Linked DNA regions of Homo sapiens. The gene in region 1 interacts genetically with each later gene. Each region holds a gene or a part of one and is shown in the gene's direction. Other genes may lie near its edges.

Region 1 (3,422 bases):
AACCACCCGGTGCTGGCCAGGGACCAGCTGTCAGGAGCTGCTGAGGATGGGTCAGCCCCAGAGGGTGGGGGTGCCGACATTGCCTCTGGCCCTGCCTCTGCGTCACCAGTACGAGCTTGAGCTTCTGCGACTCATGAGCATGGACCTGGTGGGCTGAGCTTCAGCTGTGAGGGGTCAGGCCTGCTGCAGGGAGAGCCAGCTGCAGCCAGTGCCCTGCGCTGTGCCCACAGTCCCTGAGACCCCAGGCTGAGGAGAGCAGCACTGAGCCCAACCTGGAACGGGCTCACGGCTACTGGAGCTGGGTGTGTGCTCACTGGTGTGGATGTGCAGAGCCGGGACTCGCTCTGCAAGCAGGCTGGTCCCACAACCTTGAGCCACCCACTACAGGGAGGCTGTGAGAAGGTCCCTGGCCCCTAGGAAGCTCCCTCAGTGGAGATGTTTTGGCTGCTTTAATAACAGTCATCCTTCCAAAGCCCTTCACAGCAATAAATGTTTCCATATTCCAGATGAGGTTTGCAGGGACCTGTCCTCTCTATCAGTGTCCACCTGGCGCCTCCCCCGAGTCCGGCCTGCCCTTGCTTCTCCCAGAGCTCATGGTGTTTTTCAGGGCCGCAGGCTGGCAGGGTGTCCTTCTCCCAGGGGACTGAGCCTAGGGAGAGCCAAGTGGAGGTGCCCAAGTGGAGGAGAAAGGAAAGGACCACAGAGAGGGGAGGGGAAGTGGGAGAGTCATGGTTAGGACCTCAGGCTGAGGCCTTCTGCCAAGCCAGGGGTCTGGTGTCACTCAACTGGGAAACACTGTCAGCACCCAAAGCTGCTCTCAGAGGTGGGGGTGACGGGACCACTGCATGTGGGAGGCACACGGGCCCTGTGGCATCCACAGCTGTGGTCTCCTTAGTGTCCTGTCACAGACTTGCAAATCAAAGCCCAGAGAGGCGGCAGCCAGCCACCCTCCCACCTCCCCAGCACTCCTGTGCCCACCCCATGCCTGTTTAGCCTCTGCCCTTGCTGCCCCCTTCCTCTGCTGTGTCCTTTTGGCAAGAGGAAGGTACCTCGGGGCAGATTTGGGTGGTCCTTGTGAGACCCAGGGCAGAGTGTGGTCCGGGGATACGGCTTCTGTCCAGCTCCCTGCCAGACAGCTGTCTGATCCTAAGCACAGACCAGCCTCTCGGGGGTTTTGTTCGGCCAGGAGGTGGGCTGAGGGGCAAGTGTGTGGAACATGCAGGAACAGGCTGTGCAGTGGCCCTCAGTAGTGGGGGGCTGGGGACTTCTGGGAGACTCCTTTGCTCCCATTCGCCATCCATCCCCTTTCCCTGATCAGTGGGCCCTGGCTCTGGACACTGAGTGGAGCAGACAGTCCTCCTGCCCCTATAGGTTCCACCTCCTGACTGGCACTGTGGCATCAGCATGGTCCAGCCCGTGCTGTCCTGTCAAGGACCACCTCCACAGCCAGTGGCCCCTTCCTCCATCTCAGAGACAGAGAGACGCTGGGCACAAAAGCCCTGTTGAAAGTTCACTTTGAAGGGAAGCCCATGGGGTCATGGCGACAACACTTGTTATGGAAAGGCCCTGGCGCCTCCAGCAGCTCCCTTGAGGTTCAGGTGACTGGAGCATCCACTGGGTGCCAGCAGTGCTGCTGGGAGGAGCAGGGCACAGACAGGGGCCAAAGCTTTCTGAGGATTCTCCATCTATAGCTGGAAAAGTCATTCCTCTCACTGCCTCCCCTCCTCGTAGCGAGAACCCTCTGCCCACAGTGGAGATTGCCATCCGGAACACGGGCGATGCGGACCAGTGGTGCCCACTGCTGGAGACTCTGACAGACGCTGAGATGGAGAAGAAGATCCGCGACCAGGACAGGAACACGAGGTACCCCTGGCCCTGTGGTCCTGGGCTCTGCCCACAGGCACCTGGCTTTCCAGGCAGAGGCAGGGCCATTGCCTTTCCCAGTCTCCCATGGTCTCTGAGACAGAGTACCTCTAGTGCTGCTAGAGGCAGGCAGGCTTCTGGGTGATAAGGCCCCATCCAAACGCCAGGGTATGTTTCCCTGCATGGAACAAACATAATTCCTCAGGCTGAGGGTCTGACCACAGCCCAGATCCAGGTTTTGGGGTCCCTGGAGTGATGAGCAGGGCCTGAGTGGCAGACAGGCGAGGCTGAGAGAAGGCTGGGTCTGACCCTGCTGGGGGCCCACATCCTGCCTCTGTTCCCACCCCTACACTTGGCTGCCCTGTAGAGCCTTGGGAAGGGCAGCGCCCAGGCTGGGAGCTGGCCCCGACTCATTGCCCTCCCCACTCCTCTTCCAGGCGGATGAGGCGTCTTGCCAACACGGCCCCGGCCTGGTAACCAGCCCATCAGCACACGGCTCCCACGGAGCATCTCAGAAGATTGGGCCGCCTCTCCTCCATCTTCTGGCAAGGACAGAGGCGAGGGGACAGCCCAGCGCCATCCTGAGGATCGGGTGGGGGTGGAGTGGGGGCTTCCAGGTGGCCCTTCCCGGCACACATTCCATTTGTTGAGCCCCAGTCCTGCCCCCCACCCCACCCTCCCTACCCCTCCCCAGTCTCTGGGGTCAGGAAGAAACCTTATTTTAGGTTGTGTTTTGTTTTTGTATAGGAGCCCCAGGCAGGGCTAGTAACAGTTTTTAAATAAAAGGCAACAGGTCATGTTCAATTTCTTCAACAGGTCATGTTCAATTTCTTCAAAGTTTTAACATAAAAATAATGAGAGCCAGGAGTGGGGCCGGGGCCTGGGGGGACGAAGGTGGTATGTGAACAAGGTTGGCACACAGGCCTCACCCTCCTCTGCCTCAGATTCCCAAGTGGGCAGGTGGGGGTGAATGGGGCTCCGGGTAGCACCTCAGCTCCTCTCAGCTCCCCTCAGCCTGTTCTCCTTCCAGACCCAGAGAGCTGAGAAGAGTAGCTGTGAGGCTCAGGGCAAGAGGCTCTCTGCCTTTCAGGAACAGCCCTAACCCTGCTCCCCTTGCTTGGCCTCAGGAAGGTGCCGCGAGCTCTCCTGCCGTCCCTGGGCCGCCCTGGCTCTGCTGTGTCCAGATGGTCAGGCTACTGCCAGCTGGGGCCTTGCTGCTCTGAAGTCCCCTGCGGAGGGCCCAGTCCTGTGTGGGCACTGCTGGGCTGTCGCCAGCCTGGGTGCAGGAGGGCTGTTCTAGCTCCAGTGGCACCCATAGCCAGGTCAGCTGGGGCCCTTTCCCACCCCAGCAGGTGCTGTGGCCTGGGCCAGCTCCTGCCTTACAAGCCAGCTGTGAGGAATATGGGAATAGCCCTCCCGGCCTGGTGCCAGCTCTTGGAGTTGACACGGTACAGGGAGGAGACACAGCCCAGGGTCCCTTCCCAGCCCTGCCTCCAAGGAGTTCATGTCCCCTCTGTTCTCATCTGTAATAGGGAGGTGTCCCCATTCTTCAGAATGGA
Region 2 (3,650 bases), on another chromosome or scaffold:
CAGAATGACCAGAAACCACCTAGGCGGTGCCTTGGGCTACCTGGTTAGGGACCTGGTCGTGGGCTTTTGGGGTTCCTTGTAAGGGTTGGGGGTGTCCTGAGGGATGTCAGTGGGCAGTCGGTGTTGGGTGTTCCTTCAAGGTCCCACTCACTTAGTGCTGGGCCTCAGTCATGCAGTTCCCATGCCTAGTGAGCCAGGTTACCGAGGCTGGCGCTTCGGCCACATCCTCATAGGCACGAGGAATCCTAGCCCGTGGGGTCTCCAGCACACAGCCAGGCCTGCGGGCAGGCGAGGCGGGGTCCTGAGGTAAGACCTGCTCCTCCCGTCCACTGCAGGAGCGCATTCGCAACCACAAGTACCGCAGCCTCAACGACCTAGAGAAGGACGTCATGCTCCTGTGCCAGAACGCACAGACCTTCAACCTGGAGGGCTCCCTGGTGAGGGCACCGCTGGGGGTTGGGGATGGGCCACTCCCACAGCTGGGCTTTGACCCAACCCGCCCCTCCTTCCCTTCTGAATTGATGGGTTAAAAACAAGTCCCGCTAGCTGTGGTGGTTCGTGCCTGTAATCCCAGCACTTTGGGAGGCCAAGGCGGGAGGATCACTTGAGACCAGGAGTTCACGACCAGCCTGGGCAACATAACAAGACCCTGTCTTTAAAAAAAAAAAAGAAAAAATTAAAAATTTCCAACTTGGGATATTTTAGCAATTACAAAAGCAGTATGTATTTACCGAAGAAAATAAAGATAGGCACAACAGAAGAAATAGACTCAGAGTCCTCTGTCTGTTGGAATTTTATTTTAAATTCCCTGGGGCACATTCTCTTCAAAGGAATCCTGTGGGTTTGTTCTTTCCTGTGATAGAATTGACACATACACAGCCTCAACTTGGCAAACTTTCTTAAGTGTCTTTGGGATTGATTCCTCTCAGAAAAAAGACTTGACTTTGATGAGTTTGGGAAAGATGCTGGCTTCAACAAGGGGCATGTATTTCCAATGTTATTGCAGACCTCAGAGATTGTGCAGAAGGAGGGAGGCACCTGCAGCTATTCCCAAACCAGTGTGCCTGACCTTTCACCCTGGAGCATTTCAGAAGTCTGATGCTCGGGCCCCTATGGAGGAAGATTATGGAGAGGGCCTTCCACCCTGGGTGGGCTGAAGCCCCGACCCGCTGAGGCTCGCATTGGCCACTGATCAGCTGTCCAGGGGCAACACAGGGCTGGGGCTGGGGCTGGGGCCAGGGCCGGGCAGGCAGCCCTCCAGTCGGGCCCATCCACTCAAGCCCCTGGTGTCTCTGCCCAGATCTATGAAGACTCCATCGTCTTGCAGTCGGTCTTCACCAGCGTGCGGCAGAAAATCGAGAAGGAGGATGACAGTGAAGGCGAGGAGAGTGAGGAGGAGGAAGAGGGCGAGGAGGAAGGCTCCGAATCCGAATGTGAGTCCCGGGGGGGTTCAGGACGCCGGGGTTCACGCTGGCCCGAGAGCCCCCAAGGCCCCAGCTTTTCACAGCCCTCCCGGCTCCCAGACGCCCCTTGCTGTGGGGGTGCTGCATTCCCAGAGCTCAAGGCTGTCTTTCCCTCCCGGTCCCCTCCAGCTCGGTCCGTCAAAGTGAAGATCAAGCTTGGCCGGAAGGAGAAGGCACAGGACCGGCTGAAGGGCGGCCGGCGGCGGCCGAGCCGAGGGTCCCGAGCCAAGCCGGTCGTGAGTGACGATGACAGTGAGGAGGAACAAGAGGAGGTGAGGCCGGGCCCCCGAGCAGGCAGAGCTGGCATGTGGCAGGAGGCATCCCGGGGCCCTGATGGGACAGCCCTGTGGGGCGGTGCTCCCACGCCCCCACGCTGCAGGTGGGAAAGCTGAGGCTTGACCTGCCATGGCTGACCCCAGGTCACACAGCCAGTATGTGGCAGGGCTGCCACTCAAAGCCAAGCCTGTGTGACCCCGGAACCAGCTCTCAGTACCCGTGGGTGTCTGGGGACTGGGGGACACGTGAGTCCTCAGGACAGGCAGCAGGCGGTCCCAGGGCACCAGGGCTCCTGGGCTGAGGCCGGGCAGGCCAGGGCTTGATTAGGGTTGGGTAGGAGGTGCTAGGATTGGGGACCCACCAGACAGTGCCCCGTCTCCTCAGTGGCATAGAGAATGGGCAGAAACGCCAAGACCACAGTGGATAGTTTTTGGGGTGCAGTGGGGAGCCGGAGAAGATCCACTTGCTGGCTTTAAATAATCTCACCTCTGTCTCTGGCCCTTCCTGGCTGTGGGACCTGGCAGGTCACTTTGCTTCTCAAGCTTCAGTTTCCTCTTATGCAAAGCAAGGAGGCTGCATGGATTAGGGGGCTGCCCCCACCGAAGGGCCTGGCTCCCGCTGAAGCCCAGCGAATGCCATTTTGTCATCACAGAAGCAGCAAATTTCAGTGCCTGGGAATTAGTCTGACGAAAGACGCACGTGACGTTTGAGGACATTCATGAAGTCCTCATGTGGAGGGGAGGCCCCTGTGTCAGGCAGGAGGGTCTGGGCTGTGATGCTGTCTCTCTTGCCTAATCCAGAGCAGGGTGTTTTATGGCCCATGCCAGGCTGTTTAAAAAGGTTTTATGAGGCCAGGTCCAGTGGCTCACACCTGTAATCCCAGCACTTTGGGAAACTGAGGCAGGAGGCTCACTTGAGCCTGGGAGGTCGAGGCTGCAGTGAGCCGTGATAGCACCACTGCACTCCAGCCTGGGCAACAGAGCAAGACCCTGTCTTTAAAAAAAAAAAAAAAAATATATATATATATATATATATATATATATATATATATGAAAGAGCAAAGATCTTTCACAGTCAGGAAGAACCAAGATGGTTTGGAAGCTGTAGGTCAGGGGCCAAGGGCCAGGCAGGTGACATGGGACAGAGCAGGGAAGGCACGTGGAGCCTCGAAGGTCCCGAGAGGGCCGAGTGTGGTCACAGGGACTCGTCCTGTAGAGAAACATGAAGTTTGGGCATGGCCATGGCGCCATCTCGGCTCACTGCAAGCTCCACCCCCCGGGATCGCGCCATTCTCCTGCCTCAGCCTCCCAAGTAGCTGGGACTACAGGCGCCCGCCACCACGCCCGGCTAATTTTTTGTATTTTTTAGTAGAGACGGGGTTTCACCGTGTTAGCCAGGATGGTCTCGATCTCCTGACCTCGTGATCCGCCCGCCTTGGCCTTCCAAAGTGCTGGGATTACGGGCGTGAGCCACCGTGCCCGGCCCACATCAGTGTTTTCTTGAGCAAGTTTATTTAAAGTTTGGCAGGTCCCTGGCAAGGTGCCCTGGCAGGGGTGGCCAACGCACACTCTCTCCTCCTGTCCCCTCTCCAGGACCGCTCAGGAAGTGGCAGCGAAGAAGACTGAGCCCCGACATTCCAGTCTCGACCCCGAGCCCCTCGTTCCAGAGCTGAGATGGCATAGGCCTTAGCAGTAACGGGTAGCAGCAGATGTAGTTTCAGACTTGGAGTAAAACTGTATAAACAAAAGAATCTTCCATATTTATACAGCAGAGAAGCTGTAGGACTGTTTGTGACTGGCCCTGTCCTGGCATCAGTAGCATCTGTAACAGCATTAACTGTCTTAAAGAGAGAGAGAGAGAATTCCGAATTGGGGAACACACGATACCTGTTTTTCTTTTCCGTTGCTGGCA
Region 3 (3,141 bases), on another chromosome or scaffold:
TAAAAAATAAGGATTTGAAGGATGGGGATTATTTGAAAAATCAGTTGTATGTAAAATGCATTGTTTTTATTACTTTCTTTTCTAACAAATTAAATGAAACATCAGACTAAATTTGAGGTACATTTTAAAATAGTAAAAACATATAACATTATAGACATTTACTTGCCAAGATCAAATGTCATGATTCAATACTTATTTTCATTGTGAGCTAATGCCTTCACCTGTCTGTCTTAAGGTCAATTAATAAACAACCCACTTGCGAAGACCTAGGGATATACGTTGGTATGAAGGGCAGTGCTTCCAATAAGATTTCCCTTGAAATCTCGTTGTGAGGACAAAATACATGCATAAAAAGAACAGAAACATCAAGTTGATAATAATAACAAAAAGTTAAATAGTACTTACCATGGGCCAGACATAGGTCTGAGTGCTTTACAAACTTTAACTCATAGGTCTGAGTGCTTTACAAACATTAACTCATTAAAAGTTTGCAATAACATGGTAAGTACAATTATTATCATCCCATTTTATAGATGAAGGAATTGAGGCAAAAGTTAAATGTTGTATCTGGGGTCACACAGCTGGTAAGTGGAGAAGGCAGGATTCCAACTCAGACTGGCTATGGAGGCCACTTGTGTAACCAGCCACCACACTGCTTTGTGTATGTGGTGGCATTCACAGTAAAGGCAAAAGAGTCTAGCAAAGAAATGACCATAGTGGTCAGGGAAGGTTTTGCGGGAAGTGGGGCCTGAAACAGGCTTTTTAGAAAACAAAGGATTTAATCAATGGAGAAGACCGCATTTCAGACCTTCCCATCTCTATTGTGAGTACTTCAGAAGGACAATCTTTTGTTTTGGTTTCTCTTTTAGCACAATAAATATTCGAAGAATGGCAGAACATTGGAGGAACAAAAGTATTAGGCAAGAATGTAAATGGTTTCAGGAGTGGACATTGAGAAAACCTATTTAACTAAAGTGATGCCATCACACAGAGAAGTAGCAAGGGATCATGTCAGGAAAGTGAGTTAGGACCAGATTACAAATGCTCTGAGTACCAGGCTGTAGCCTCTGTGGTAGTGCTTCTGACACCCTAATCTTCACAGAAACCACTGGGGTCTTGTTAAATGCACATGCAGATTCAGTAGGTCTGAGGTGGGCCCAAGAGTCTGCATTTGCAGTAAGTTTGGGTGATGCTGATGTTGCTGGTCCCCAGACCACAGTTTGAGTACCAAGACTCTAGACAACAGCAAAAAACCATTTTGTGGCTGGGTTGAGGGAAAGGGATAGGGTAGTGATGGAAAGTTGTCTATGGCACCTCCCCTGAGTTGCAGCCAACGATTTGAAAGATATATAGACCTACAATATTTTATTGAATTTGTTTATAGAACCTTTTTCTATATGCCCCGTCCCTCCTTTCGGATGCAAAGCTGTCTTGCCTGAAGATATGTTTTAAACCACGTTTTTCCTCTCTTTCATACAGAGCAAGGCTAAAGAGCTACCTCTTTCTGCTGTACGCTTTATGGAAGAATTGGGTGAGTGTGCCTTTGGAAAAATCTATAAAGGCCATCTCTATCTCCCAGGCATGGACCATGCTCAGCTGGTTGCTATCAAGACCTTGAAAGACTATAACAACCCCCAGCAATGGACGGAATTTCAACAAGAAGCCTCCCTAATGGCAGAACTGCACCACCCCAATATTGTCTGCCTTCTAGGTGCCGTCACTCAGGAACAACCTGTGTGCATGCTTTTTGAGTATATTAATCAGGGGGATCTCCATGAGTTCCTCATCATGAGATCCCCACACTCTGATGTTGGCTGCAGCAGTGATGAAGATGGGACTGTGAAATCCAGCCTGGACCACGGAGATTTTCTGCACATTGCAATTCAGATTGCAGCTGGCATGGAATACCTGTCTAGTCACTTCTTTGTCCACAAGGACCTTGCAGCTCGCAATATTTTAATCGGAGAGCAACTTCATGTAAAGATTTCAGACTTGGGGCTTTCCAGAGAAATTTACTCCGCTGATTACTACAGGGTCCAGAGTAAGTCCTTGCTGCCCATTCGCTGGATGCCCCCTGAAGCCATCATGTATGGCAAATTCTCTTCTGATTCAGATATCTGGTCCTTTGGGGTTGTCTTGTGGGAGATTTTCAGTTTTGGACTCCAGCCATATTATGGATTCAGTAACCAGGAAGTGATTGAGATGGTGAGAAAACGGCAGCTCTTACCATGCTCTGAAGACTGCCCACCCAGAATGTACAGCCTCATGACAGAGTGCTGGAATGAGATTCCTTCTAGGAGACCAAGATTTAAAGATATTCACGTCCGGCTTCGGTCCTGGGAGGGACTCTCAAGTCACACAAGCTCTACTACTCCTTCAGGGGGAAATGCCACCACACAGACAACCTCCCTCAGTGCCAGCCCAGTGAGTAATCTCAGTAACCCCAGATATCCTAATTACATGTTCCCGAGCCAGGGTATTACACCACAGGGCCAGATTGCTGGTTTCATTGGCCCGCCAATACCTCAGAACCAGCGATTCATTCCCATCAATGGATACCCAATACCTCCTGGATATGCAGCGTTTCCAGCTGCCCACTACCAGCCAACAGGTCCTCCCAGAGTGATTCAGCACTGCCCACCTCCCAAGAGTCGGTCCCCAAGCAGTGCCAGTGGGTCGACTAGCACTGGCCATGTGACTAGCTTGCCCTCATCAGGATCCAATCAGGAAGCAAATATTCCTTTACTACCACACATGTCAATTCCAAATCATCCTGGTGGAATGGGTATCACCGTTTTTGGCAACAAATCTCAAAAACCCTACAAAATTGACTCAAAGCAAGCATCTTTACTAGGAGACGCCAATATTCATGGACACACCGAATCTATGATTTCTGCAGAACTGTAAAATGCACAACTTTTGTAAATGTGGTATACAGGACAAACTAGACGGCCGTAGAAAAGATTTATATTCAAATGTTTTTATTAAAGTAAGGTTCTCATTTAGCAGACATCGCAACAAGTACCTTCTGTGAAGTTTCACTGTGTCTTACCAAGCAGGACAGACACTCGGCCAGAAAAAAAAAAAAAAAAAAAAAACAAGCAAACAAAAACATTGTGGGATGTGCACTCCATTGGAGTG

Evidence for each region.
Region 2: changes in SMARCB1 (region 1) and SMARCA4 together harm fitness more than expected from each alone (negative genetic interaction), as found in Homo sapiens cells (one large-scale study listed by BioGRID).
Region 3: changes in SMARCB1 (region 1) and ROR1 together harm fitness more than expected from each alone (negative genetic interaction), as found in Homo sapiens cells (one large-scale study listed by BioGRID).

Annotation. Positions count from the first base shown.
Region 1 is NC_000022.11:23,831,841-23,835,262, forward strand, and holds part of SMARCB1 (SWI/SNF-related matrix-associated actin-dependent regulator of chromatin subfamily B member 1), read left to right. Parts: intron 1-1,731; coding exon 1,732-1,863; intron 1,864-2,300; coding exon 2,301-2,340; 3' UTR 2,341-2,986; coding exon of another isoform or gene 2,987-3,139; 3' UTR 3,140-3,422. Other genes in the region: DERL3 (derlin-3), read right to left, coding at 2,987-3,139.
Region 2 is NC_000019.10:11,058,453-11,062,102, forward strand, and holds part of SMARCA4 (SWI/SNF-related matrix-associated actin-dependent regulator of chromatin subfamily A member 4), read left to right. Parts: intron 1-335; coding exon 336-437; intron 438-1,300; coding exon 1,301-1,433; intron 1,434-1,592; coding exon 1,593-1,735; intron 1,736-3,331; coding exon 3,332-3,364; 3' UTR 3,365-3,650. UniProt on the Homo sapiens protein: ATPase involved in transcriptional activation and repression of select genes by chromatin remodeling (alteration of DNA-nucleosome topology).
Region 3 is NC_000001.11:64,175,949-64,179,089, forward strand, and holds part of ROR1 (inactive tyrosine-protein kinase transmembrane receptor ROR1 isoform 1 precursor), read left to right. Parts: intron 1-1,479; coding exon 1,480-2,907; 3' UTR 2,908-3,141. UniProt on the Homo sapiens protein: Has very low kinase activity in vitro and is unlikely to function as a tyrosine kinase in vivo. Receptor for ligand WNT5A which activate downstream NFkB signaling pathway and may result in the inhibition of WNT3A-mediated signaling.